Linked DNA regions of Homo sapiens. The protein of the gene in region 4 interacts with the protein of the main gene of each other region in a pairwise test. Each region holds a gene or a part of one and is shown on either strand. Other genes may lie near its edges. The genes, in order: PHF24, AIG1, SLC19A3 and THBD.

The links.
Region 1: the proteins of THBD (region 4) and PHF24 interact in binary tests that used the Homo sapiens proteins (3 or more experiments, as listed by UniProt).
Region 2: the proteins of THBD (region 4) and AIG1 interact in binary tests that used the Homo sapiens proteins (3 or more experiments, as listed by UniProt).
Region 3: the proteins of THBD (region 4) and SLC19A3 interact in binary tests that used the Homo sapiens proteins (3 or more experiments, as listed by UniProt).

Annotation. Positions count from the first base shown.
Region 1 is NC_000009.12:34,961,261-34,968,285, forward strand, and holds part of PHF24 (PHD finger protein 24), read left to right. Parts: intron 1-7,025.
Region 2 is NC_000006.12:143,056,439-143,063,909, forward strand, and holds the start of AIG1 (androgen-induced gene 1 protein), read left to right. Parts: upstream 1-4,450; 5' UTR 4,451-4,487; coding exon 4,488-4,628; intron 4,629-4,775; coding exon of another isoform or gene 4,776-4,778; exon of another isoform or gene 4,779-5,157; intron 5,158-7,471. UniProt on the Homo sapiens protein: Hydrolyzes bioactive fatty-acid esters of hydroxy-fatty acids (FAHFAs), but not other major classes of lipids. Show a preference for FAHFAs with branching distal from the carboxylate head group of the lipids.
Region 3 is NC_000002.12:227,715,008-227,722,238, forward strand, and holds the start of SLC19A3 (thiamine transporter 2), read right to left. Parts: upstream 3,022-7,231; 5' UTR 2,936-3,021; intron 1-2,935. UniProt on the Homo sapiens protein: Mediates high affinity thiamine uptake, probably via a proton anti-port mechanism. Has no folate transport activity. Mediates H(+)-dependent pyridoxine transport.
Region 4 is NC_000020.11:23,046,671-23,053,763, reverse strand, and holds the start of THBD (thrombomodulin precursor), read left to right. Parts: upstream 1-4,091; 5' UTR 4,092-4,259; coding exon 4,260-5,987; 3' UTR 5,988-7,093. UniProt on the Homo sapiens protein: Endothelial cell receptor that plays a critical role in regulating several physiological processes including hemostasis, coagulation, fibrinolysis, inflammation, and angiogenesis.

The DNA.
Region 1 (7,025 bases), on a different chromosome or scaffold from region 4:
ATTCATTTCTGATGGGAATATCATTATCCACTCCACCCCTCAATCTTAATGACCAAATTCTGACAGGAATTGCTTGCCAGCTTTGGACCAAGAAACCAAGACCATCAGTGTCCAGCTGAAGACATGATTATTTTTTCCATTAGCACATCCCCCTCCATTCTCCCCACTCTTCCAGCAATCCCCTCAGAGACTCACTTACATTTACTAAGTGCTACTTACTTGCCAGGCACTATGCTAGATAAATATGAGAGTTTCTTGCCCTTGAGGAGTTCACATAGAATCAGTCTGCATTTCTCTAATCATTCACTATAAAGAGTAGGAAAAGTAAGGGGGAAATTATGGCATTACAGAATATCCACAGGAACCAATATAGAGTATGCCTTTTCCCAAGCATCACTGAAACTCAGCTGCTGTGCTATGCCTCCTCTGGCAGCCACATTCAGCCCTCCTGCCAGTGCCCTGCCAAAATTACTTTTGCCCATATACTCTGAGTGTAAACTGACCACATTTTTGCCTTCCTTATGATAGTAATGACAGAACCTTTTATTTAGATAGCATGTTACAGTTTATGAAGCCCTTTTAGATATATGTTGGCTGTTTGGTTTTGAGAAATGCTTCATCTTACTGGGGTCCTCTCACTGAAGCAGAGCTGTGTGGGCTAATTGGCTCTCTCTCTTTTTGTATGTTTGTTTTTTTGAGGCTTAGGAGTCTCCCAGAGGGAAAGCCCCAGTGATTCACTACAGTCACCACCTACGAGCTCTTAGGTTGCGAAGGAGTTTCCTGTTGGGTCCTAAGGCCAAACAATGCACTCACTGGTCAGCGCTGGAACTTATCAGGGCAGTCCCTCTTCCTGGCCTCAGCAAATCCAATTCTCTGGGATTTTCTTCCTCCTTGAAACTCAAATACATATTCTAACAAATATTTTAAGCATACTATCTCAAACCAGTTCTTTGGGCTGATGCTAATTCTTATGTGAAGACACGTTTCCTTGCCTATTTCTATCTAGCCCCCAGGCTGGCTTCATACCATCTAAGTCATGATGGAGTCCCCATATAGCTCCATGCCTTGGCATGTGCTGTTACCTCTTCCTGGAATGCTTTTTTTTTTTTTCCTTATCCACTGATGTAACTCCTACTCATATTCAAAATTTAGCTCAAGCAACACCTTTTTTTTTTCAATCCTACACTTATGCCCCCTGCACACGCACATACTCACTGCATTCTCACAGGCTGAATGAGCTTCCATTTGTTCATTCTACCATCAGTTATTAAGCACCTGATTTGTGCCTGACGCATAGTAGGCTGTACTCGGCGAAAGTTTGCAGAATCAACAGAGAAGTAAATGGTGATAATTAAGGTGTAATAATTGCATTACATGGGGCTGAATCTGTGTTTCAGGGAACCAGAGCAGAAAACAGGGAGTGCCTCTCCATCTTGCTGAAAAGCTCTGCTTGCTAAGTGCAGTCTCACCAGCCAATCACTGATGGTGTGATGTTCCTTAACTGTTGCTCTGCCTCTGTGGGAAGTCAGCACTGTGGCTTTTAATGAAGACTCAGGCCCTAAGAGGCTAAGCTCATGCCATAATTTTGCTCTCATCTATATTAGAACTTTGTGAGCTTTCAGTAAATATTAAACAGCAGCAGGATGCCTTGTAGTCTTGAGCTGAGGCCAGAAAGACAGTTTTTCTGTCTAGCCTTTCTGTTCCTTGGAAACCCCAGAAAAGCCCCATGTAGTTGTGACTGTCTCATCCTGAATAAACAGGCTGAATGAAGAGAGGTGGGGAGGTACCAGGTAGACCTTTCAGGGTCTACAAACATGAATACTAAAATTAGTTTCTAGGCTACTGCCAGGTGACAAAATGTCTGAGTAGGAACAGGCTCCAAGAGCACTGTAGTGAGGCACTGGAATTTCCTAAAGCAACAGCCAGTCACTGGAGAACAATCGGACCCCTCGGGGCTTGGATTTCCTCAAAGACCCGCACGAGAACTCTTTTTGATGGTTTTTTTTTTTTTTTTTTTGCTTAAAATCTTGAGGTTGATGCTGATGTTCACAGTAAGCTCAGAGTCTGTGCTATGCATTCAGCGTTTGTTTTGTTTTTTTACAGACCCTGGTTGTGTTGATTTTCCACACTCTTGCAGCTGGTCACCTTCTGTGTTAGGCATATGGCTTTTCCTAAGGCTCTCAGCCCTTTGGGCACATGCTTCCAGGAGCCAATTGTTGACCACCTTGAAATTTTTCACTTGTATGTGCAGATACTGCTCGTGCTAAATTTCAAACCCAGGACAAAGGAAGTGCATTTTCACACTTTCTACTTGTGTCCTTAAGGCAACTGCCCTCCTGTGGGCCTCACCATAGTCCACAGGACACAGCATAAATGCAGGGGACTGTTGACTTTGGTAATACTGGCTTCTCTTTTCTTACCATTGTGATTGTAGAAACCGGCTAAATTGCAGAATTTCTTAACTCTCCTCTGTAGTCAGAGAGAAATCATCCTCGTGTTCTCATCCCTGCTAGCCCTGACTCACTGTCCAGGTGCCACCTCTTGGGAAGTAGAGTAGATGTGATGATGTGAGCTGGTGACTGCATAGTTTCTAGAATTGAGTTTTGGAGATTTGGTCTCATTAGTCTCTGGCCAATTTGATAAAGAGAAAAGACACTATGATCTTAAATAAATTGTTTATGTTGCCCAGTCATCTCTGCATCATTCATTCAACAAAGATTTAAGAGGCTAAAACCCTTAATGCTTAATGGAGATGATCAAACCTGTATACAAAAGACACTTTAATTCACATGCTCTGTGGAAGTCAGTAAGAACCATCTCTACTTTTCTCCCTCCTGATCTCAGTGAAACACAGATTCCTTTACTCCACTTGCTCAACCTATTCTCTTTGGTTGTCTTTCCCTTTCCCCTCACTCAGAGGTTTTCTTTGCCTTGTTCCTTCCTAGGGAAGCCCTAACCTCCAGGCAGCCACTTTTACTTGCTTGTGAGCCTTTTAAATAGCCTCCATCCCCATACCAAGAATCAGATTGAACCAGCTACTCGGGAGGCTGAGGCAGGAGAATCACTTGAGCCCAGGAGTTTGAGGCCAGCCTGGGTAACATAGTGAGACCCTAGAACCACCCTCCATCTGAAAACATAAATTTTAAGAAGAGAAAATCAGTAAATGTACTTTACATTTAACAGGCTGCATGAGGAAACTCCTGCCTATTAGGAGTGTTGCCCTTCAGGCTCTCCACAGCTCTGAATCTTTATACAGAGTGCTGGGAAATAGAGGCTCCCCAGCTTCCTTCCCCTTCCTTATTTCTCTATCAGCTCCTGCTCCAGAGCAGCCCCTCCTCCTCTTACTCCCACCACTTTGCCCTTATTAATAATCCCGCTGAATTCTAAGCAGGTGCTCTGCAGAAAATGGGTGTGTCTTGCAAACATTACAAGCTGCCCACAAATGTCTTACTGCCTGACAAACACATCTAGACATGCTTCTCTTACCCAAGACAGATTCTACTTGTTGCTGTTTTCATTTCTTCCAGTTCATGAAGTCAGACGGCCCTATTCCACCTTCTTGTCCCGCTGTTATATACCATCACCTGCTCCTCTCCCCTGAGTTTTTTTCCAGGCCTTCCCTAGATACCACAAATTCCCTGACAGCCACATAATTCTTGGGACAATATCTTTTTGGCCTCTTTTCGTCATTTTTAGGGAGGCAGAAACCCCCAGTCCCACCCACCAGCGAAAGAAGTAATCATTAGGTATAATTTGTGGGATCTTTGCAACTTGATTTCCTTTTAACTCTCTCTTTTTCCTAGGACTTATTCCAGCACAGGAGAGGCCAGGTTTTTATCCACAAGCATTTGTTTTTACCTGGCACCAATCACTACCACTTGTTTCTCTAAAAATTTGAGCTGATTTTGTTAAGTTCTCAAACATCCCAGGTGCACTTTTTGGATATTTCAGCACACACACTTTTAATCAAAGTGTCTTTTGTATACAGTTTTGATCCTCTCCATTAAGTATTAAGAGTTTTAGACTCGCTTTTAAAGCTGAATTCTGTTGTGTCTTCACAGTTTACTGTCAAAGTCAAAGTCATGTCAATTCAAAATGACTTGATGGTCTTGTTTGGATTTTGATGGTTTACTGTGAATAGTTCTACTTTGCATTTCTGCCCTTACAGGCATAAAATGGTCTACAAGATTGAACCATCTCAGCTAAAAGGAATAGCAGTGCTCCAAGAGCCTGTGCTTAGGACTGGAAAGCGTTTGTTTTTATGTTTGTTTTGCTAGTAGATGTCAGCTTCAGTCTTCATAGAAATTGCTTTAAGGATAAACTCCCAAAACCATTGCAATGACATAGTTGACCATGGAGATAGCTTCATAGCTATTCTTGGTATCCTTATAAAGAATAATGGTATCCTTACAGTTAATAATGGGTTGTAGCGGATCTACAGTGTGTTGGGAGGTGTCTGTGATTAATTTGATGATTCTCTGTTAATGAGTAAGTTCATTTATAGAGTAACTTCCTAACTGGCTGGTCTTTGTTCAATAACTTTTATTAAAGCATCTGAAAAAGCCAAAAACAAAGGCATACCATTGGTTTTCCTCTAATGAATCGTTCTTGAAAATGTGAATTTAGTATTTTTTTTCCAGATCTCCAAATAAGTGTTTCTCAACTATTTTTTTCCAGTGTTTATCAGACCTTCTGATAAACATAAAAGTCTCTTGACTGTTCCCTAAAACTTGTGATATAACTCCTGGGAGGAGGCTGCCTCCAACTATTTGGAGAGTTAGTACCTTCCGTATAGCCCTAAGAACAAAGAAGATACTGTCAAACTCACTGTTTTGTAGTCTATGTCACACACACAAAAAAAGCAGAGATGGTTTTTAATACTTGTTTTCCAAATATAAATACATAATTGATAAGCTCTTGAAACTCACTTATTTCTCCCCTCCTCCCGGAGTTTCTGATATACACCTCCCACCTGCCACAGGATCCAGCCAATTCACCACTTGAGAATCATTGCTCTGGTTGTTGTGTTTAAAAAATTAAATCAAGCTGGGCACTCTGGCTGGAACCTATAATCCTAGCTACTTGGGAGGCTGAGGCAGGGAATCACATGAGCCCCAGAGTTATCAACAAGTCTGGGCAACATACCAAGACCCTGTCTCTTTAAAAATTTTTCAAAAATTAGCACGACCTGTAGCCCCAGCTATGTGAGAGGATTGCTTGAAATTTTTCAAAAATTATCAATCATGACCTGTAGTCCCAGCTATGTGAGAGGATTGCTTGAGTGCAGGAGTTCGAGACTAGCCTGGGTAATATGGCGAGACCCCCCCCCTCGCCCCATCTCAAAATAAATAATTAAATCATTTTTTCTCTTTTTTAATAGCATGAATATATCACAAGTTATTCAGTAATTTCCCTATTGAGGTTGTTTCCACCTTTTTTCTTTTTTAAGAGACAGGGTCTCACTGTGTTGCCCAGGTTTCAGTGTAGTGGCTATTCACAGGCACAGTCATGGCACACTACAGACCCAAACTCCTGGTCTCAAGCAATCCTCATGCTTCAGCCTCCCGAGTAGCTGGGATTATAGGAGCAAATCACCATGCCCAATTTCTTTCCATCTTTTTAATCACTGTAAAAAGAATGCTCCAATCAATCATTTTTTTTTAATGTGATGAGGTATTGCTATGTTGGCCAGGCTGGTTTTGAATTCCTGGGCTCAAGCAGTTCTCCCACCTCAGCTGCCCACGTAGCTGGGATTACAGGCATGTGCCACTATGCCTAGCTAAATTTTTTTTTTTTACATATACCCACAGGTGAAAGAGCATCAGCCTCTTGGATACAATAGGTTTTCTTTAGTCAGAGGTATATTAGTAGCTGTCCATCTCTGGTGGATCTTCCAACCACACAGACTCCTAAGAGAAGCTTGAATAAACTGTTCATCTTTCACCACATCAGTTAAGGGCAGCACTTTCCTTATATCCTTGTCTTTTAGAGGTGCGTTCTTCAAATTGCAGATTTAAATCCATTAGTAGGTCATGAAATCATTTCAGAGAGTCACTATCAGGGTTGTTTTAATGAAATAGGATAGAAAATATCAGGGAGCATCACATGTAGTAAAAGTATGATTGTTCCACAAAATTTTGACTTCAGTTGCAGATCTATAAACACATGTGTCTACAGGGTTATCACAAAAAATATATTTCTTACTCTGAGCCACAGTTGAAAGTTTTGAGAAACATGCCTTGGGGTTTCTGAGGAAAACCTAGTGGTCTGGAAAATGTAATTGCTCATAATAAAAATATGCTCAAATAAAAATATGAAGAATTATCTGTCAGTTTTGTATTTTCTCTCTTGGGGTACCTCTGTCACTGTAAGTTGGGGAGTTGCATCCCACCCAGCCATCGAACACGCTGTTGCCCATGAGGCATTTGAGCAGCATCTGGGGACTACAGGGCCAGCCCTGTCACTTCAAGAACCCACTGGGTCCAAAGCCTCAGCAAAAAATTTAACATATACATACTCTTCTCTCCATCCCCACCCCACCCTGGCTAGATTCCCTCATTAGATCATATGAACTTTTAAAAGAAGATGAAAAACAACATGAGCATTCTAAATGCTTCAGACTATATGTTCCAAATACACTCATTAACAGACAGAGAACTAAAGCCCAAAGCAACCAGCAACAGGTTCTGAATCATAGAACAGGGGACCCAAAACAAAAACAAGTCATCAAGTTGCCAACCCTAGGATTTGTTTTATTATCTAATTAATGTGCAATGTGGGAGAATTGGAAAATATAGATTACAAAAAGATTAAAAGTACATACAGTACAAAAATTAGATCATAACATGAGCATTTTTGTAACTTGCTATTTTTGTTAATATGTTTGCATATTTTGAGTATCTTTCCCACCAATAAATATACTTCTACCTCAGTGTTTTCCGTGTTGTTTAGTCTTTCGTGGTACGTAATTTATTTCCCTATTGCTTAATATTTGTTTCCAGCTAATGAAAAAAAGATTTCTTAAT
Region 2 (7,471 bases), on a different chromosome or scaffold from region 4:
ATAAGCATCAATTGTAAGGAAAAAAAAGAGTAATTTTTACCTACTTCTTTCTCTTAATCTTTCCCAACTGCCCTCCAGGGTAAAAGAACTCTGTCACCTCAGTTCATATAAACAAACATGAACAACACACAGTAGGTTCTAGAAGTGTAGTTTCTTAATTGGTTTTGAGTTCCATATAATCCTAAAAAGTAGCTTTCTCAATTCAAAATACAGACATTACTGTGTATTTAGTGGTGAAAACTTTAAAAGAACATAAATATCCAAAAAGAAAAAAAGTTTAAGCAAAATATATGTCCATATGATGTTGTGCTATGCAATCATTAAACATGAGTTTTACAATGTTTTAAATAGGAGAAAATTGCTATTAAACTTGAGGCAGAAGAAATCTCTGTGATGCAAGTTGTTATATAGTATGTCACAATCAGCTAACTCTATATTGTAAAAGACTTGCAGGAATATGCTAAAATGTTCATTGTTTTCTCTGGGTGGAGAGAGTGGGGAAAATGTTTTTTTAAAAGTAGCGTTTCCATTTTAGTATCATAAATACGCTACATTTATAATGAATAAAAATAATTCAGAGGTATCTTTTCTGTAATACTGAAGACTTTTTCCATGCCCAGGCCTCTGAGGGGGACATGTCCTAACTTTCACCCTTGAAGTACAGATAAATGGGGAGAAAAAATTTGTTCCAAATATATTGATATTGTTAGAAAATGCTTATCTCATGTAAATGCAGAACCAAAGGAAATGTGTAAATATCGAATACTGCAAGGATATGTATAAACACAATTCTTCCTCCTGAACTTTTAAGCAACGACCAATAGTTACATAAAGTTGGCTTCTTGGAATACAATTTAAGGGTGACATAGGAGTCCCAGTCATTTCCCAAATTAACAGGTATTATCATCAGTATGTCAGACAGACATCCTCCCTGATACGGTTTGGCTGTGTCCCCACCCAAATTTCATCTTGAATTGTAGCTCCCTTAATCTCCACGCATTGTAGGGGGGGAACTGGTGGGAGGTAATTGAATCATGGGGGCAGGTTTTCCTGTGCTGTTCTTGTGATAGTGAATAAGTCTCAGGAGATCTGATGGTTTTATAAAGGGCAGTTTCCTGCACACACTCTTTTGCCTGCCACCACGTAAGATGTGACTTTGCTCTTCCTTTATCTTCTGCCATGAGGGTGAAGCCTCCCCAGCCATGTGGAACTGTGAGTCCATTAAGACTCTTTTTCTCTATGAATTATCCAATCACAGGTATTTCTTCATAGCAGTATGAAAATGGACTAATACACCCCCCCTCCAAAAGAAAAAAAAGGAATGAACAGTCTGTCTCAATTATTAGAAGTACTTAAGAAAGGGTATCTTCAGCCCCATATATAGTCTAAGAAATATTACAACAATCAAAGAATATAGCTTGAAGCTAAAACGGGTTCTTGAAATCTTCCCTTGGTGTTTCTTATGTTTACTGCTATTGATGAAATTCAACTGGATGAGGCTTTTCTCCTCCAGTCTCACTAACTGTGTAGTAGAATGAAAAAGATAAAAAAAAAGACATGCAAATATTTCTTCTATACATAGAAAACAGTATTATCTAAATCAAATATGGAATCATCATAAGAATACTTAGAAGTGAATAATGTATTATAGTTCATAAAAAGTAATAACTTACCTAATGAAGTTTTAAAAGCAATTGTTTACGCTGTAAAAACACAATGTGTGTAGATTAATATTTTCCACAAAAGTTATCTGTAAAACATGACTAAGATTGTTAGATATGGTCTGAAAAGCACAGAAAGCAAGCCTGGACATGTTAATAGTTATCAAGAAGTTCCAAAAATTGTGAACTGACATTCTCATAAAATAGTATTTGAGTCAAGTTTTATACAAACGCTTCATTTTTTTAAAGCACAAAACTATCTGATCATGGTTGGCAAATCATGAAAAAACAAAAGCAAACCCAGCAGAATAGGTTCTAAATACTTAATTAAGAGTTATAGTTATTTATTTAAAAGAAACTGGTCGGGCGCAGTGACTCACACCTGTAATCCCAGCACTTTGGGAGGCCGAGGCAGGTGGATCATTTGAAGTCAGGAGTTCAAGACCAACCTGGCCAACATGGTGAAACCCCATCTCTACTAAAGATACAAAAAAAATTAGCCAGGTGTGGTGGCATGCGCCTGTAGTCCCAGCTACTTGGGAGGCTGAGGCAGGAGAATAGTTGAACCCAGGAGGCAGAGGTTGCAGTGAGCTGAGATCATGCCACTGCACTTCCGCCTGGGTGACAGAGCTAGACTCTGTCTCACAAAAAAACAAAAAGAAAAACAAAACAAAAAACCTGACCATTAAAAATGGCTTTATGAAAATATTATTTCATTTTGTAACAATGGGGTTGGGGAGTCTTAATAATTGTCTAACATGTAAAGTAGGAAGGGTATATCAAACTTTGCAAATATCACATTAACTCATAAAACTTTATTAAGGCTCTATTGAGAGGTGAGGCCAGCTGGACCTCCTGAGACAAGTGGGGACTTGGGGAACTTGCCTGTCTTACAAGAGGAGTGTAAAATGCACCAATCAGCGCTCTGTAAAAAGCACCAATCAGCACTCTGTAAAACACACTAATCAGCACTCTGTAAAACGCACCAATCAGCAAGATTTTAAAAGTAGCCAATCGCAGGGAGGACTGAAAAAAGGGCACTCTCATAGGACAGAAACAGAACACTGGAGAGGACAATAAGGGAATAAAAGCTGGCCACCCCAGCCAGCAGCAGCAACCCGCTCCAGTCCCCTTTCATGCTGTGGAAGCTTTGTCCTTTCACTCTTCACAATAAACCTTGCTATCGCTCACTCTGGGTCTGTGCCATCTTTAAGAGCTGTAACACTTACCACCAAGGTCTGCCGCTTCATTCTTGAAGTCACTGAGACCACTAATCTACCGGCAGGAACCAATTCCAGACACATTATTAAGGTAGGTAGATCTTCAATAGATCTACTCTTTTTTATTTTTATTTTTTTGGCAGTTTATAACCATGTACCAAGGATGCACAATTAAAAAAATAAAGCCAACTTTTACATTAAGATTTAACCAAAAATCATCAATAATACATCGTTTTAATGCTAGTAGAATCTTCTTCTGACATCAGTTCTATTAGCATAATTATAATGCCAATTAAAAAAATCTAGTGGGTCTCTTCATTTTAGTTTAGAGCTTGATTGGAAACATTCAGGAAAACATCCATGGCTTGCTTGCTACTTTCTCTTTACCTCTAGCACTATGCTTCTCCCCACCAGCCCTCCCTCCACATCCTCTGACTCAGAGACTATTTGAAGAGGACACCTGTTTTAAATGGATCCACAGGAAATACCTATGTTGCCTTTTCATAATCCGAACCTGCAACTGGTTGGCTGAAATGAAAATGTTGCCCACAGACTGATGCAACTTCAGTGTGACAACATTTACTGGAAGGCAGGAGGGACTCCAGTTTATATTTATTTTCCTTCCATTAAGCCCTGGTAGTGTAGTGTAAGAAAAAAGTAAGGGCAAAACCAGTTTAACAACCAGATGATTAGTATTAAATTACACGCAGGGGTTTTACATCCAAAATTGGAATTTTTTAAAGCTGAATGCAATCTTGTGGCAGAAAGTTATTTGAAAATCCTTTCTTTATAGCTTTTTATCTATAAACCTCTTGTCCAAAGTTCATATTCTAGCTGATGTTATATACTGATATGACATTATTCAATCTGTCATGGAAAAGTGCTGCGTAGCCTACCCATTGAAAGCAGAATTGAGAGAGTTTCCTAGTGATTGACAGTCGTTTGTCAACACTGAAAACCTTATTGCCCCAAAATACTGAAAGTCACTCGCGGCTGCCTGTGCTCGGGTTTACACCCCACGTTCACACCCCCACCGGATCCCTCCGCACGGGGCACCAGCTCTCGGCCAACTGCAACTACCCCAGGAAGCGTCACCGCGATTCCGGGGCGGGAACATTTGTGGACACTGGGGTCCACTCCTTCAGTCTAGGTTCCCCGCCCCCTCGCCCGGCCCGGCGCCCACTAGCCACAGGGCCCGCTTCCCCCTGGAGATCAGCGCGCACTTCCCGAGCCCTCGTAGCACTCAGAGGTCGCATCCACACCTGGGATGCCTAGGGGGCGCCTCCTGGCCGGGTGTCCCGGGACCCTGCGAACGCAGGAGCAGAATGACGAAGGTGACGAAAGAGATGACGACACGCCGCCTGCCAGGCCGCGGCCGGCAGTGGAGAGCGTCCGCAAACCGCGCCCGGCCAGTACAGGTCACCCGGGCGCTCGCGGCCGCGCCAGTCCCCGGGGGCGCGCGCCCCGCCCCCGCCCCCGCCCCCGCCCCGCCCCGCCCCGCGCCCGCGCCCGCGCCCGGGTTCCCACGGCGCCCGCCCCCGCGCGCCCGGCGCCTCCCTCACGCCCGCCCTCCTTGCCGCCCAGCCGGTCCAGGCCTCTGGCGAACATGGCGCTTGTCCCCTGCCAGGTGCTGCGGATGGCAATCCTGCTGTCTTACTGCTCTATCCTGTGTAACTACAAGGCCATCGAAATGCCCTCACACCAGACCTACGGAGGGAGCTGGAAATTCCTGACGTTCATTGATCTGGTAAGGCCGTCCCCTCCCCCTGCTCGCCCCGCACCCCGTGCCTGTGTGTGCGTGTGTGTGTGTGTGTGTGTGTGTGTGTGTGGATGCGCGAGCACCTGCGCACGTGCGCGCCTCCAGCATCCACCCGTGTCCTCGCCTCTTCCCCAGTGATTGCGTGTGAAGGCCTGGCTGCCCCCGCAGCGGCACCTTCTGAACCACTCACCGTTACCTGGTAGCTGGGTACCCTTACCTGGCAACTGGGGGACAAATGGAGGTGGGGCGCAGCCAGGTGGTGGGCTCTTTGGAGGGGGACACCGAACTGCTTCTAAGAGGTGACACGGGAAGAATCTTCAACAAAAGCATCGGACCTGATCCTGAATGGCCTGAGACCCATTCGCCCTCAAGGTGCTTTTCAGAGCACCCACCGTGGGATGAACTTGTTGCAACTGAAGGAAACTGGGTATTGTCTAGTGATTTGGAACTTCACCTGAAAGAACCAAATCCTTCTCATAAGGGAGAGAAAGCACCTAATAAAGTTGTCTTCTTTGCATCTGTTTTTTTCCCCCATTGTCAATAATTTACTTTCAACCTTTACCCCGTACATATTAGGAGACAGAGATGTTCAAAGTGCATTTCCAAGGTGACTGTACACACTTCTCTGTCTTCCCATGTACAAATTTACAGTAGTTTGCATAAGCAGCTCCTCTGTTGGCACAATATGATAATCTTGACAGGTGCAGGTTATTATTAGTATATCATTTTGAAAGTTTTTCTATTTCTGGCACTAAAAGGCCCTCTTCAACCTCCCTGGAGAACAGAACATGGGCATAAGGCCCAATAATGAACTCATGGATGGACCTAGGAATTTCAGGGTAAAGGTGACTAAGACACACGCTAAAAGATTATTAGGAAGAGGCTTAAAACAAAAGCAATGAAGTTCTAAAGCACTCAGAGAAATTGTAGAACCAATTCCTGGGACTCCCTGAACTGTTTATCCAAGACTATACAGTTGGTTGGCTACACCAGCAAGATTATAATCTCTTGTTGACCCTCCATTCTGATGAAGAGAACATGATACCTGTTTTAAAAATTTCCAAAGGCTTAGGATGCCTCAAAGAAATGCAGAGAGGCTTTTGGTTTAAAAATAACACCTTATATTTGCATTATATTAGATACTTTCAGAGTGGAATTTCAATTCTGTTGCCCAGCAGTCTCCAAACTGTGCACATACCCTTAGGCCCACAAGACTTCACAGGGTATAGAATGTTGCAAGGGTTTTAATTTTCAGATCCTCATCTTCCAACTCTGCTTGAAACTAATTTCCCTCTGAACATGCGTGATGCCTGCCAGTTCTCCTTTCATTCTCCCCATTCATCCAAGTGAGGAGCCCGTGACAAGACTCTGAGGTGTGCTTTTCTGTCTGTTCCTTTTAGCTTCCAGAAGATAGATGGTTGTCACCAGGGCTATCTTTATATTTGATTGAACAACAATGTCGGAGTTGCCTTGACAGAAAGTCTTATTGGGTTGATTGGCTTGTCAATGAGGATTGGCTTTGCCAATTATGTTGTGTAGCAGACATTTTCTGTATACTGAATGAGCTAAATCTGCAACCCTGAGGTTCTGATGCATATGTATATGAAGCAAGCATACCACCCATAGAGCGCCAGAAAGATGTCCCTTTTTCAAGTGTTTACACTTAACTATGTTAAGGATGTTGAGATGTTATTTAAAAATATGTGCATAGATTTTCAGAATTCTTTGAGGGGCTATGTGAGCAAAACTCCTTTTGGGACACTGCCTTATCCCATTCCTAAGTCAGATCTTACTTAGAGCTGGCCTATTTGAATGTTGCTAAAGAGCAGTGCTGGGCAAGAATACAGAGATGCTGTGGGAGCCATAGGTTCTAGAAACAGCCCTCAGCATCACTCTTGCAGTAGATGCTGTGTTGTGGGAGCAAGGCAGGGGTCAGCAGGTGAACAGAGGTAGAAATTGAGGGTGTTGGTTAACCCAAGAGATGCCTGCTTTTCATAATTAGCATTGCTTACTGTGCATTGAAAAACAAGGCTCAGAAGAAATGATATACCTCTCATAACCTTTGTGTGACATGAAACCATAGTAGAGTCAGCTTGATATGCTGTCATATAATTTATCTTTTAGCATTCAATGATTGGACTTGCCTGTTTTAAATACTAATCACCATACAGGACTTTTTCTATCCCAGAAGTCAGACAGTAGATTCAAATGTGAAACATTTACTTTGCTTCATATTTAGCTTCAGATTGTATAGGACCTTTAGCCAGCGTTGTAATTTTTTACTCTGTGGCTCCTGATTGAAACATAATAATTATCTTTAACAAAGAGTGCCTGTGAGAAAGTATGTCTGAGATATATTCATAAAAACATTCATGCAAAGTGTTATTCTTTTTATTATTTGAGATTTAGAATCCTTAGAGCTTAAGCATTGTACAGCTGTTAAAACAACCAACCTGTCAATCCTCAGTAATGGCATGAAATGATTAGGCTACTATAATTTAGCCATTTTACTTTTCACTTTTAATGTTAAAAAGACCGTAAACTTTATTACCTAGTGCCTTGTACAATATTAATGAGTCTAAGTTTATTGGAGTAATTTTGCAAGAGTTTAACTTTTTAAAATTGTAATGTGAAGGCCCTTTTTTCTAGCCAACTTGGATTGCAGGAATCATTTATCCTGATAGCCACAGTTGGATTCCATATTCCATGGCTTCAGTTTACCAGGATCTGAGTCAGGAATCTCAGGCTCTATGCATCCAGGAGCAGATGATTATGTGGCAGTGGCCATTCTGGCTGTATTCATTTCTCTCCTTGGGTATGAGGGTCATTCC
Region 3 (7,231 bases), on a different chromosome or scaffold from region 4:
CAGGGTTTTGCCTTGTTGGTCAGGCTGGTTTTGAACTCCTGACCTCAAGTGCTCCACCCGCCTCAGCCACTCAAAGTGCTGGGATTACAGGTGTGAGCCGCCGTGCCTGGCCTTGCCCTGACTATTCTTACTAAAGTCACCTAATTTAGCTTCTATAGAATTTTGTGCTAAGTGACCTAGACTCTCAAAAAACTACAAAGTAGCCTTATCACCCATCTATAATCCTTTATGTCAAACCCCACACCCCCCCCAAAAAAAAATCTTTGCTGAAATAAAGCATGCCACACAACTTCCAAAGACGTAAACTAGACCCAGATATTCAGTATGTGGGCCAGAATAGTTCTGTTGTTTGTTTTTGTAAGAGCAGAAACAAGTGATATTTTTAAAATTTTATTTTTAGTAAAGATGGGGCTTTGCCATGTTGGCCAGGCTACTCTTGAACTCCTGGCCTCAAGAAATCCGCCTGCCTTGGCCTCCCAAAGTGCTGGGATTACAGGTGTGAGCCACCGCACCCAGCCCAAGTGATCTTTAAGATGCTTCAGATTTTATTTTATCATATATGGTACCATTCCTTTTAATTTGCATGAGGTGTTTGCTGGTAAATTAATCATTTCCTTCCAAATTCTGTTTATTCTGTTATGTCTATGTTCAGATCAATCTAGTCTTAGGGAGAGCAGGAGGAATATGCCTAAGAAAACCATAAAACTAAGAAAAACATAAAACGGCTTAGAAAGTCAACTGAGCCCAGCCTGGGCAAAATAGCGAGACCTCACCTCTATAAAAAATACAAAAATTAGCTAGGCATGGTGGTGTGTGCCTATAGTGCCAGGTAGTTGGGAGACTGAAGTGGGAAGATTGCTTGAACAGGGAAAGTCAAGGCTGCGGTGAGCCGAGATCCCAGCCACTGCACTCCAGCCTGGGCAACAAGAGCGAGACTCCGTCTCAAAAAAAAAAAAAAAAAAAAAAAATTTCAAAAACCCCAAACAAAACAAAACAAAAAAGGAAAGTCAGCTGACATCTAATCCTTGAGATGCAGTGAAAGTTTCTGATTAAATGCACTGAGAGAAGGTGGTGTTGTAGGGAAAAAACTGGATTAAAGAAAAATTAGAGGTCATTTGAGCTATTTTACAACTCTGTAAATTTTAACAACTGATGGCAATGTTAAGTAATTATTGTCTATAGACATGCAAATAAGGTTTATCCCATGAAGGACAACAGTCTTCCTTTCCCCCATGGAAAACCAGTTTCAATATTCCTGATCTATATTTCATTATTCAATATTCCTGATCTACGAATGTACCCATTCTTTGGGTTCTTCTTTGATCTGGCTACTACAGACTCATCAGTTTCGTCACTAATAAGTGCCGGGACTCAGAAGCCGATACCCCAAAATATGGGGCTTTGACATGCTGGAGACCTCAAGGTCTCTCTGACCTTCCCGGCTCCCAGCTCAAAAAAACCTTTGTCTGCCTAAGATCCAGACCCACCAAAAGGAACAACTGTTTCTTTTCCCTTCCCTGTAAGACCAAGAATATACCCCACACCTGAACAGACCCATTCACAAGATAATGTAGCTTATTCTCTCCCCTGACCCATTCATGCTCCCTAGCAGAAGCCCATCCACTTCTGCTGGATGCTCTTCGGCTCCCTCCCGTAACCTCATTTGCCAGGGTAGTCTATAAGCTTCTGAGACATGTTGCAGGGTGGGTAATCAATCACTCTGATTCTCCCTGTGTGCATGTTAAATAAATGTGTATGCATTTACCATTACACAACCTTAAAAGAGTGTTGTTGGTCTATTAGCAATAATGACTGAAGGAAATTGGTATTTTTGTCCATTTCAGCTACTACTAGGATAATCTTATAAGATATTTGGGAAGTTATGTTTTGGTCTATTTAATATATGTGCCTCGATGAAAAAAACACCTTTTGCCACAGGAGACACCAATGTTTCAATATTGATAGGAGCAAAACACATGAGAGTGCTTTTTTTTTTTTTTTTTTTTTTTTTTTGAGGCAGAATCTTGCTGGGTCGCCCAGGCTGGAGTGCAGTGGTGCAATCTTGGCTCACTGCAACCTTCGCCTCCCAAGTTCAAGCCATTCTTCAGCCTCAGCCTCCAGTGTAGCTGGGATTACAGGCACCCGCCACCATGCCCGGCTAATTTTTGCCTTTTTAGTAGAGACGGGGTTTCATCCCAGGGCCAAGCTGGTCTCGAATTCCTGACCTCAAGCAATCCGCCCCGCTCAGCCTCCCAAAGTGCTGGGATTACAGGCGTGAGCCACTGCGCCTGGCCTGAGAGTACTTTTAGAAAACATTATTCCTTTACCTTTTTCAAACTTGAAGCACTCCGAAAGTCCCAACCTTTTGCACATTTGCGGCAGCGACATTGATTTGGTAAACAGCTGTCACACTATTTATTATTTGATGACTTAGGTATCCTTTCCAGCAGTGTTTTTGTAAGGTGTAGTTGCGTTTTCTTTTAGTTTCAATTAACTAAATTTCAAGTGGTTCCCAAAAAAGCCCCTGCTCTCTTAAATTCAAACTCACCTTCCTTTTTCCCACTAGGAAGGACCTTTTCTCCATCCTTGGATTGGAATTTGGAATTCTATGCTAAAATGCCTTTTCAGTTAAAATCTGTGAACGTGGGATGTAACCATAGGAGGTGCTGGCACTTTACGGGAATCATGATTTTATTTAATCTGCGCTTCCAGAAGGCTGCAAATGGGAATTCCAGACAAACCCACTTGGGTGAATCCCAGCACGCGGGCTGCGGCGTAGGGGGAGAGCTCCTCACGCGGCTCAGAGTGTAGCCCAGGCCCGCAGAGCCAGGAACCCGCCCCCAGCTCTCCAAACCCGGGAAGAGAGAGGCGACACTGCTAAGACCGAGGGATGACGGTGCTTCTTCAATTAATTCGCCCCCCGAGATATTCTTACCTACAGAAGGGAGTGTCTGTTCACCAAATCGCTCACTTGCCGCACGACCACGCACCCGCGGCTGTCGGATGGATCCAGGCGCTCTTGGTGGGAAGGGGGCGGAGCCTGCCTGGCCCGGAGCCCGGGGCCACGCCCCCACGCTTTGCATATGCGAATCCGGGCGTCCAGACCTTTCATCCCAGTGTGGAAGCCCAGATTTTCCTGGCCCAGGGCCGGTTTTCTGGGCAGAAACAGTCAACTCTGCTGAAAGGAACAACTTAAGTAATACACTGACATTCAGCATAATGAAGCAAGAGGGCCTGAATCCAACAGCGATCGTTTGCTTTATTTACAAATATGTCCTTTCTTATGAATCCATTTATTTCTCTCCAAAAGCTTAGGAGAGAGGGCTGGCTGGCTGTCACCCCCACTCTACACATGAAGAAAGTGAGGCGGAAGGAAGTAGGCCTAGTAAATAGAGAAGCCTGGGTTTTAGTTGGGGCTCCTGGCTCCAGAGCCAGTGGTTATAATCACTCTGCACTTTTTTTTTTTAAAGGAGGTAGAGTGGGATGGTTTCCTGGCACTTTGAAAATCTGATACAAACAATTTTTTCTTTTCTTCTTCTTTTTCTTTTCTTTTCTCTTTTCTTTCTTTCTTTTTTTTTTTTTTGAGACAGAGTCTCCCTCTGTCGCCCAGGATGGAGTGCAGTGGCGCGATCTCGGCTCACTACAACCCTCCGCCTCCCGGGTTCAAGCGATTCTCCTGCCTCAGCCTCCAAAAATTAACGCCCAGTTAATTTTTGTGTTTTTAGTAGAGACGGGGTTTGGTTTCACCATATTGGCCAGGCTCATCTCGAACTCCTGGCCTCGTGATCCGCCTGCCTCGGCCTCTCAAAGTGCTGAGATTACAGGCGTGAGCCACCGCGCCTGGTCTTTTTTCTTTCTTTCTTTCTTTCTTTTTTTTTTTGAGATGGAGCCTCGCTGTTGTTGGCCCCGGGCTGGAGTGCAATGGCACGATCTTGGCTCACTGCAACCTCCACCTCCCGGGTTCCAGCAATTCTTCTGCCTCAGCCTCCCTAGTAGCTGGGATTACAGGCGCCCGTCACCACACCCAGCTAATTTTTGTATTTTTAGTAGAGATGGGGTTTCACCATGTTGTCCAGGCTGGTCTCAAACTCCTGACCTCAGGTGATCCACCCGCCTCGGCCTCCCAAAGTGCTAGGATTACAGGTGTGAGCCACAGCACCCGGCCACCTGGCCTCTTTTCTTTTCTTTTCTCTTTCTTTCTTTCTTTTTTTTTTTTTTTTGACAAAGTCTCACTTTATCTCCCAGGCTGGAGTGCAGTGGTGCAACCCCAGCTCACTGCAACCTCAATCTCCCAGGCACACTGATCCTCCTGCCTCAGCCTCCCAAGTAGCTGGGCTTGCAGGTGGGTGCCACCACGTCACATTAATTTTTTTGTTTTTTTTTTTTGGTAGAGACAGAGTCTCACTATCTTGCCCAGGCTGGTCTTGAACTCCTGGGCTCAAAGGATCCTCCTGCCTTGCCCGCCCAAAGTGTTGGGATTACAGGCATGAGCCACTACGCTTAGCCTGCAAAGAGTTTATATATTAAAGTGAAACTTCTTATTAAACAGAGAATTTTTTTAAAGCATTACAAGGTTCTTATTGGTTAAAATGGAAAAAATATTTTTATTTCTGTTCATCTCTTGGTGGACTTGAAAAACCCTCCCTAAAGATAAACACTGCGTGGCTTCTAAGGGCTACCAGTGGAAGTGAAATGGATTAAAACACCCCGAGGTGTCTTGGTTCTCTGTCCTACGACTCTGCGTTTTCTATTTTCATCTTCCTATGATTTGTGAAAAGTCCTGAGCTGAACCTTAGGTGTAGGAGTGCCCTGCTCATTGTGCAACCTTGCAAATTGCTGGGTCCTCCCAAAGAATATTGTGAAATTTTCTTAAAGGCTGAAGGTGTCATGATTTCCTTCACACCTCTTGAAGAAAATGAGTTCAAATTGGACCTTGAGAAGTTTACTCTGATTCTCTAATATCTCATAGCCACAGTCTAAATCAGAGAGAGATATTGAGGAATTCATTCATTCATGCATAGAAACATAAATGACACATTTGCAGATTACATGACATGACATTTGAGTTTGATCCCATACGACTGTGTGGGGAGAAGGCTGTGGATGGGGTCATAGATGACAAAAGATTGGCTGTGTGTTGATTATTGTTGACTTGGGCAGTAGTTCTTAGAAACTGATTGCACTATTTTCCATTTTTGTATATGTTTATTTTCCATAATACAAAATTGTTTTAAAATCATTTATTCTGACTGGGCACAGTGGCTAATGCCTGTAATATAGCACTTTGGGGAGCCGAGGTGGGTGCATCGCTTGAGCCCAGGAGTTCAAGACCAGCCTGGGCAACACAGTGAGACCCTGTCTCTACAAAAATACAAAAATTACCCAGACGTGGTAGCATGCGTCTGTAGTCCCAGCTACTTGGGAGGCTGAAGTGGGAGATTGGCTTGAGCCTAAAGAGGTGGAGGTTGCAATGAGCTGAGATCACACCATTGCACTCCAGCCTGAGTGACAGAGCCAGACCCTGTCTCAAATAAACCCATACACAAAAAAGAAAAAAAAATCATTTGTTCATTAAGAAGTTATTTATTGAGTAACTATGTGCCAGACACTGTCCTAGGTGCTTGGGATACATTCGTGAACAAAGCTAAAAATCTCTGCCTTGTAATTTACATTCTAGCTTGGGATGGGGTATATAGAGGGAACATAAATAGTAAACATGATGAGTTAGTGAATTTTATAGTGTGTTAGAAAGTGGTAAGTGCCGTGGATCCCACTGAGAAGAGGATGGAGAAGATGACTAAGCCTGAGGCTTGGAGCTCCAACTTGGGAAAGAACCTACAGGGAGGCTGAATGAGAACAGTAGGAGAGGGAGCCATAGTGTATTAGGGAGTTGCTCAACACTGTGTACCTCCCTATTATACTTCCTCTTGCACTGTTACTAAAAAATGTGGCTGCAATTATGTCCATGAAAACCTATACAAGGCCAGGCATGGTAGCTCACGCCTGTAATCCCAGGTGAGTAGATCACCTGAGGTCAGGAGTTCGAGACTAGCCTGGCCAACATGGCGAAACCCCATCTCTACGAAAAATGCAAAAATTAGCCAGGCGTGGCGGCACACCCCTGTAATCCCAGCTACTTGGGAGGCTGAGGCAGAAGAATCGCTTGAACCCAGGAGGTGGAGGTTGCAGTGAGCCGAGATCACGCCACTGCACTCCAGCCTGGGTGACAGAGTGAGACTCTGTCTCAAAAAAAAAAAAAAAAAAAAAAAAAAGTCTATTTGAATAGTTGATATAGGAGTGGAGAAAAGGTGGCCAGGCAAAGAAAATCTCACATTAGGATTACTGCAAGTAGGCTAATTTATCTGTTTCACTCTTAAATGTTAACTCTTTGAAGGCAAATATTTGTTTAGTTTTTTTTTTTTTTTTTTTTTGAGATGGAGTCTCACTGTGTTGCCCAGGCTGTAGTGTAATGGGTCGATCTTGGCTCACTGCAACCTCTGCCTCCTGGGTTCAGGGGATTCTCCTGCCTCAGCCTCCCGAGTAGCTGGGATTACACGCACCTGCCACTACGGCCAGCTAATTTTTGTATTTTTAGTAGAGACAGGGTTTCACCATGTTAGTCAGGCTAGTCTCAAACTCCTGACCTCAGGTGATCTGCCCGCCTCGATCTCCCAAAGTGCTGGGATTATAGGTGTGAGCCACCGCACCTGGCCTTATCTTTAGATTTCTATCTTGGCTGGATAACTGGCCTAATAGAGCAGCCACATATTTGCTGAGTGAATGAGTAAAAAACACATAGAGAGTTGGAGAGAAGCTGTGACCTGCCGTACTGGGACCATCCAACACTCCCAATCATAAATCAGTTGCAGATGTTGGAGCTCATAAACCGATAACACAAAATACAGTGCCTTGAGATACCGAACTGCAGAAGCCTAAGGGTCTGTCTGATCTCCCCGACAAGGTCTCTTCTGAAGAAGCTGAAGTCTTCTGTCTGCCTAAGATCTAGACCCACCAAGGGGAACTATGGTTTTTCCTTCCCCTCCTTGTAAGAGTAAGAATGTAACCACACTTGAATAGACCCTCTCACAGTCAAAGAGAACTACTTACAAATTAATCTCAGTACCTGATCCTTTATTGTCCTTCAGCAGAATTCCTCTTCTTCCTCCTCCCATAATGTGTTTAGCCAGGCTGGTAGATTGAAGGGGGCCAGCCTCTCCACACCTGTGGGTAT
Region 4 (7,093 bases):
GAAAATCACCCTGGAGAGGACAAAGAAACATCTACCACAGGTGCTCCAATAAGCTCTGGGCACTGTCTAGTTACAAAGCGTGCTGTTAGGTGTAAGGGGATACAAAAATGTGTGGGAATCTGGAGTATAAGTGCAGCAAAAAGTGTGGTATATGCATGATTAGGTACAGGGCAGGGAGGGAGTGGTGAGTACTAAAGAGCTGAGAGAACGACCTGTCTATGGGAATCACAGACAGATCAGTTCTGGTTGGGTTATTCAGAAAACTTGCTGATGGGGAAGCTTGAACTGGGACTTGAAAGAATGGAAAGATTTCAGTGGGTGAAGAGCCTGGCAGACGAGAATGTTGCTAGCAGAGGGAGAGACATGAACTACAGGGTGGAGATGAGCGGACAAGGTGCTTCTCTGACAGTGAGCAGGAGCCTCCCTTGCCAGGATGTTTCCTCATTCATGGAGACCAGCAGAACACTGGTCCTTGAAGCCTTGTGAGGTGCAAGGGGTGCAGGCTCTGGGTCCAAATTCCAGCATAGCCCCTTGAGTGCAAATTTTCTCATCTGTGGCCACAGAGTAGAGGCACTATCGCGAGCATCTTCAGTGCGGAGGGGAAAGAGTATGGGCTCTCCCAGCGGGTGGGAGCAGCACTGAGGGAGTATGAGGATCAGAGTAGCCTCAGCCACGGTGGAGAGCTGGAGAGATAAGCAGCAAGGAAAAGAGCTGGGGACCCAACTGTCTCAGCATAAATTGAGAAGGCAGGAGCAGTGATCAGGGGAAACAAGACACAAAAACTAGGCAGTGGATGAAGGAGAGCAGAAAGTCAAAGGCAAGTGCATGGTTTAAAACCTCAGTGGACCAACTATTGATACTGGGAAAGATGGGGTAAGGGTCCCTTCTAGAATACTCCCTCCCCAATCTCCTTGGACACTGCTATCACTGCCAGGGGAATGGGTAAGTTCACCAAAAGGTGGGTTGTAAAGAGATGATGAAGACCACCAGCAAAACCTTGAGAATGGCCACTCTAGTGGGTGGTACAAGAGGATCCCAGGGGCCTCCCCAAGGCTCACAGGAGAGGAAGGGAGGAAAACATGTGTCTCAAAAGTAATTGGAGGAGGAGCCTTGAGAATGGTGAAGGGTCACAAGTGCAAATGGCACCAAGGCTTCTAGAAGGATGGCTGAAAACAAGATTTTGGCAACAGTATTTAGGACCAGATGGGTGTTCTTCAAGGGAGCTGTTTCAGGAGTAAAGCAAGTCTGCTGGTGGGCCAGAGTGAGGGTGCTGGGCCAGGAACTGGGCCAAGCATTGGGAAGTGGATGTGTTATCTGCAAAGGGATAGGAAGGAGTGGCCCACCCTGGTGTGCAGGGGGCACAGATAGGAAGATAGGGATGGGGCAAGAACACAGACAGGGGACCTTCAGTCACCAGAAGGTAGTCTAAAATATGCAAAGCCTCCAAGGTATTGGCTGGAGAGGAAAAACAAAGCGGCTGAGGGCAGGCCCCACAAGGCAAAGGTATCCTGAGGGTCAGGGGTAAAGCCCTTACAGGTGGGAAAGCCAAGTGGGTCATGTCCACCCATCCTTGTGTAGGGCAACCCAGACACTGTGGTACCCCCCATGGGACAATGCTCTGCTTCTATCTGTTGTTGCTCTAGTTTCTTTCTAATACAGAAACATCCAACATCTGCACCTCCTCATATAGGGTTGATCCAAGTTTCACAGACATCACTGAGTTCTTAGTGGACTCAGCTATTGGGGCTGTTCTCACACTTTTTTTTTCTTTGCAAGAATCAGCAATGGGTGCAAGTGGACCTGTGTAGGACGTCCAGTGAAACATTGTGTTGGTGAATCAGCTAGAATCCATCCAAGAACTCAGCCAGCCTGGTGTGGGGTGAGATCTGATCCTTGAATGTCCCTCAGTGGCTTTTAGGGCTGGCAGGTTCAGAAGGGCCCTCTCATCACCCCCCCAGGGCCTCATTCCTTGTTTAACACTTTGCTATCACAGTCTTGAATCCTTGTAATTGAACAATGGACCCCACATTTTCACTTTGCACTGGTTTCTGATTCTGTAACCGATCCTGTCCCCCTCTCTTGTCTCATTCACTCTGGGAATTGTCCCCACATTCTGAGACCTTTCAGCAGTGCCCCAACGAGGTTCCTGCCCTTATCTGAAGCTCCACCCTCACCCCCATGGCGGCACCGCAGGCAGCCCTGCTTTTGCGTCCCGCGTAGGCAGGCTGTGCACCGGAGTCACGACCCCCTGATTCAGCCTAGGCAGCCACAGCTTGACTGCTCCCGCCGGACAAGCCCTACTGTGCTATCTGCCGCTCTTCCCTTCCTCTTCCCAGGGGGTCCGCGTCAGGGGAGGCGCAGCTGTGTGCATTCCGGGAGCTTCAGACCCCCGTGTCCAGCAGCTCCTTCGTTTCCTGGGTGCTGGGGCGGCCTTCCCAGCGAAGAGCTCAACTCAGCGGGACGTTTGGAGGCTCTCTGCCCCAAGGCGCTGGGGAGTGTGCGGCGGGACAGTCGTGCTTGCCTTTTTCACTTTCAGAGTGTCCACGCCCCACCCGTTTGGTCACTGCAGGTCAGTCCAGTCCAGCCCGGCCCACCCCACCGGTGCGTGTCTGTCGCACGTGGCAGACGCCATACTCTCTGTTCTTGTTTAAAGCCCAGGATCTACTGGGCCCTGGAGGCAAGAGGTGAACGCAGCGGAATCCACGCTGAGCTGCCCGGGAACGGAGCTTCCAACCCCAGAAGGAGGACTCTGTGCTCCTACACCTTAACCCTTTTTAGCCCGAAACTTCTCCAACTTCCTTGGCTTTGTTTAGAGCTCGACAGCGCCGCCCCCTGGCGCTCGTTGTGAGGACAGTAGAGGAGAGAGGCAAGGGTGTTTTTAAACAGTTTGCCTCTCACCATTATGGGGGCGACCCGAGGGGGAGACCCACTCTTCCGCATTCCCGGTAAGTGAACCACCGGAAGAGGTCGAAAGTGACGGATTCCCATGTCCTCCTCCAGCCCCCCCCCCACCCTGCCCATCCACAGGACGGTGGCTCTTCAGTGCCCTTTGCCGAGCAAGTGGCGTTTCTATGCACGTGGGTATCAATTCGGACTCTGGACGAAATGGAAACCTCCTTAGCCGACCCGGGTGGGATCAGCTGGGATCCTGCGCGCTCCCCTGGGGGGTTGCCAGCCACTCTGTTGGGGTGCAAGAAGCACCATCCTTCGGAAGCTGGGCCGAAACTGGCCAGGCTGACTCGCTCCCACGCGCCCGCCCCTACCCGGCGCCGCAGCAATTCACCTGCCACCGCCTCTGAGCCGGGTCCGGACTTCGGCGCCCTGACAGTGTCCCCGCGACTTCCCCACCCGATGAGATGGGGTCTGGCGTTGGCCAGTGCGTGTCCAGGGACTCGCGGGTCCCTGGCCAGCCATGGGGCAGAGGGCGCTGGTGTTAGGCCAGTCTTCCCCACCCTGCCCCGTCACCCCAGCCACACCCACTGTCCTGTGAGGCCAAGCGCGCTCCGCTGGTTTCCTGAGCCAGGCACCTTGGCCGCGGACAGGATCCAGCTGTCTCTCCTTGCGATCCTGTCTTCGGGGAAGTCCACGTCCTAGGCAGGTCCTCCCAAAGTGCCCTTGGTGCCGATCACCCCTCCCAGCGTCTTGCAGGTCCTGTGCACCACCTCCCCCACTCCCCATTCAAAGCCCTCTTCTCTGAAGTCTCCGGTTCCCAGAGCTCTTGCAATCCAGGCTTTCCTTGGAAGTGGCTGTAACATGTATGAAAAGAAAGAAAGGAGGACCAAGAGATGAAAGAGGGCTGCACGCGTGGGGGCCCGAGTGGTGGGCGGGGACAGTCGTCTTGTTACAGGGGTGCTGGCCTTCCCTGGCGCCTGCCCCTGTCGGCCCCGCCCGAGAACCTCCCTGCGCCAGGGCAGGGTTTACTCATCCCGGCGAGGTGATCCCATGCGCGAGGGCGGGCGCAAGGGCGGCCAGAGAACCCAGCAATCCGAGTATGCGGCATCAGCCCTTCCCACCAGGCACTTCCTTCCTTTTCCCGAACGTCCAGGGAGGGAGGGCCGGGCACTTATAAACTCGAGCCCTGGCCGATCCGCATGTCAGAGGCTGCCTCGCAGGGGCTGCGCGCAGCGGCAAGAAGTGTCTGGGCTGGGACGGACAGGAGAGGCTGTCGCCATCGGCGTCCTGTGCCCCTCTGCTCCGGCACGGCCCTGTCGCAGTGCCCGCGCTTTCCCCGGCGCCTGCACGCGGCGCGCCTGGGTAACATGCTTGGGGTCCTGGTCCTTGGCGCGCTGGCCCTGGCCGGCCTGGGGTTCCCCGCACCCGCAGAGCCGCAGCCGGGTGGCAGCCAGTGCGTCGAGCACGACTGCTTCGCGCTCTACCCGGGCCCCGCGACCTTCCTCAATGCCAGTCAGATCTGCGACGGACTGCGGGGCCACCTAATGACAGTGCGCTCCTCGGTGGCTGCCGATGTCATTTCCTTGCTACTGAACGGCGACGGCGGCGTTGGCCGCCGGCGCCTCTGGATCGGCCTGCAGCTGCCACCCGGCTGCGGCGACCCCAAGCGCCTCGGGCCCCTGCGCGGCTTCCAGTGGGTTACGGGAGACAACAACACCAGCTATAGCAGGTGGGCACGGCTCGACCTCAATGGGGCTCCCCTCTGCGGCCCGTTGTGCGTCGCTGTCTCCGCTGCTGAGGCCACTGTGCCCAGCGAGCCGATCTGGGAGGAGCAGCAGTGCGAAGTGAAGGCCGATGGCTTCCTCTGCGAGTTCCACTTCCCAGCCACCTGCAGGCCACTGGCTGTGGAGCCCGGCGCCGCGGCTGCCGCCGTCTCGATCACCTACGGCACCCCGTTCGCGGCCCGCGGAGCGGACTTCCAGGCGCTGCCGGTGGGCAGCTCCGCCGCGGTGGCTCCCCTCGGCTTACAGCTAATGTGCACCGCGCCGCCCGGAGCGGTCCAGGGGCACTGGGCCAGGGAGGCGCCGGGCGCTTGGGACTGCAGCGTGGAGAACGGCGGCTGCGAGCACGCGTGCAATGCGATCCCTGGGGCTCCCCGCTGCCAGTGCCCAGCCGGCGCCGCCCTGCAGGCAGACGGGCGCTCCTGCACCGCATCCGCGACGCAGTCCTGCAACGACCTCTGCGAGCACTTCTGCGTTCCCAACCCCGACCAGCCGGGCTCCTACTCGTGCATGTGCGAGACCGGCTACCGGCTGGCGGCCGACCAACACCGGTGCGAGGACGTGGATGACTGCATACTGGAGCCCAGTCCGTGTCCGCAGCGCTGTGTCAACACACAGGGTGGCTTCGAGTGCCACTGCTACCCTAACTACGACCTGGTGGACGGCGAGTGTGTGGAGCCCGTGGACCCGTGCTTCAGAGCCAACTGCGAGTACCAGTGCCAGCCCCTGAACCAAACTAGCTACCTCTGCGTCTGCGCCGAGGGCTTCGCGCCCATTCCCCACGAGCCGCACAGGTGCCAGATGTTTTGCAACCAGACTGCCTGTCCAGCCGACTGCGACCCCAACACCCAGGCTAGCTGTGAGTGCCCTGAAGGCTACATCCTGGACGACGGTTTCATCTGCACGGACATCGACGAGTGCGAAAACGGCGGCTTCTGCTCCGGGGTGTGCCACAACCTCCCCGGTACCTTCGAGTGCATCTGCGGGCCCGACTCGGCCCTTGCCCGCCACATTGGCACCGACTGTGACTCCGGCAAGGTGGACGGTGGCGACAGCGGCTCTGGCGAGCCCCCGCCCAGCCCGACGCCCGGCTCCACCTTGACTCCTCCGGCCGTGGGGCTCGTGCATTCGGGCTTGCTCATAGGCATCTCCATCGCGAGCCTGTGCCTGGTGGTGGCGCTTTTGGCGCTCCTCTGCCACCTGCGCAAGAAGCAGGGCGCCGCCAGGGCCAAGATGGAGTACAAGTGCGCGGCCCCTTCCAAGGAGGTAGTGCTGCAGCACGTGCGGACCGAGCGGACGCCGCAGAGACTCTGAGCGGCCTCCGTCCAGGAGCCTGGCTCCGTCCAGGAGCCTGTGCCTCCTCACCCCCAGCTTTGCTACCAAAGCACCTTAGCTGGCATTACAGCTGGAGAAGACCCTCCCCGCACCCCCCAAGCTGTTTTCTTCTATTCCATGGCTAACTGGCGAGGGGGTGATTAGAGGGAGGAGAATGAGCCTCGGCCTCTTCCGTGACGTCACTGGACCACTGGGCAATGATGGCAATTTTGTAACGAAGACACAGACTGCGATTTGTCCCAGGTCCTCACTACCGGGCGCAGGAGGGTGAGCGTTATTGGTCGGCAGCCTTCTGGGCAGACCTTGACCTCGTGGGCTAGGGATGACTAAAATATTTATTTTTTTTAAGTATTTAGGTTTTTGTTTGTTTCCTTTGTTCTTACCTGTATGTCTCCAGTATCCACTTTGCACAGCTCTCCGGTCTCTCTCTCTCTACAAACTCCCACTTGTCATGTGACAGGTAAACTATCTTGGTGAATTTTTTTTTCCTAGCCCTCTCACATTTATGAAGCAAGCCCCACTTATTCCCCATTCTTCCTAGTTTTCTCCTCCCAGGAACTGGGCCAACTCACCTGAGTCACCCTACCTGTGCCTGACCCTACTTCTTTTGCTCTTAGCTGTCTGCTCAGACAGAACCCCTACATGAAACAGAAACAAAAACACTAAAAATAAAAATGGCCATTTGCTTTTTCACCAGATTTGCTAATTTATCCTGAAATTTCAGATTCCCAGAGCAAAATAATTTTAAACAAAGGTTGAGATGTAAAAGGTATTAAATTGATGTTGCTGGACTGTCATAGAAATTACACCCAAAGAGGTATTTATCTTTACTTTTAAACAGTGAGCCTGAATTTTGTTGCTGTTTTGATTTGTACTGAAAAATGGTAATTGTTGCTAATCTTCTTATGCAATTTCCTTTTTTGTTATTATTACTTATTTTTGACAGTGTTGAAAATGTTCAGAAGGTTGCTCTAGATTGAGAGAAGAGACAAACACCTCCCAGGAGACAGTTCAAGAAAGCTTCAAACTGCATGATTCATGCCAATTAGCAATTGACTGTCACTGTTCCTTGTCACTGGTAGACC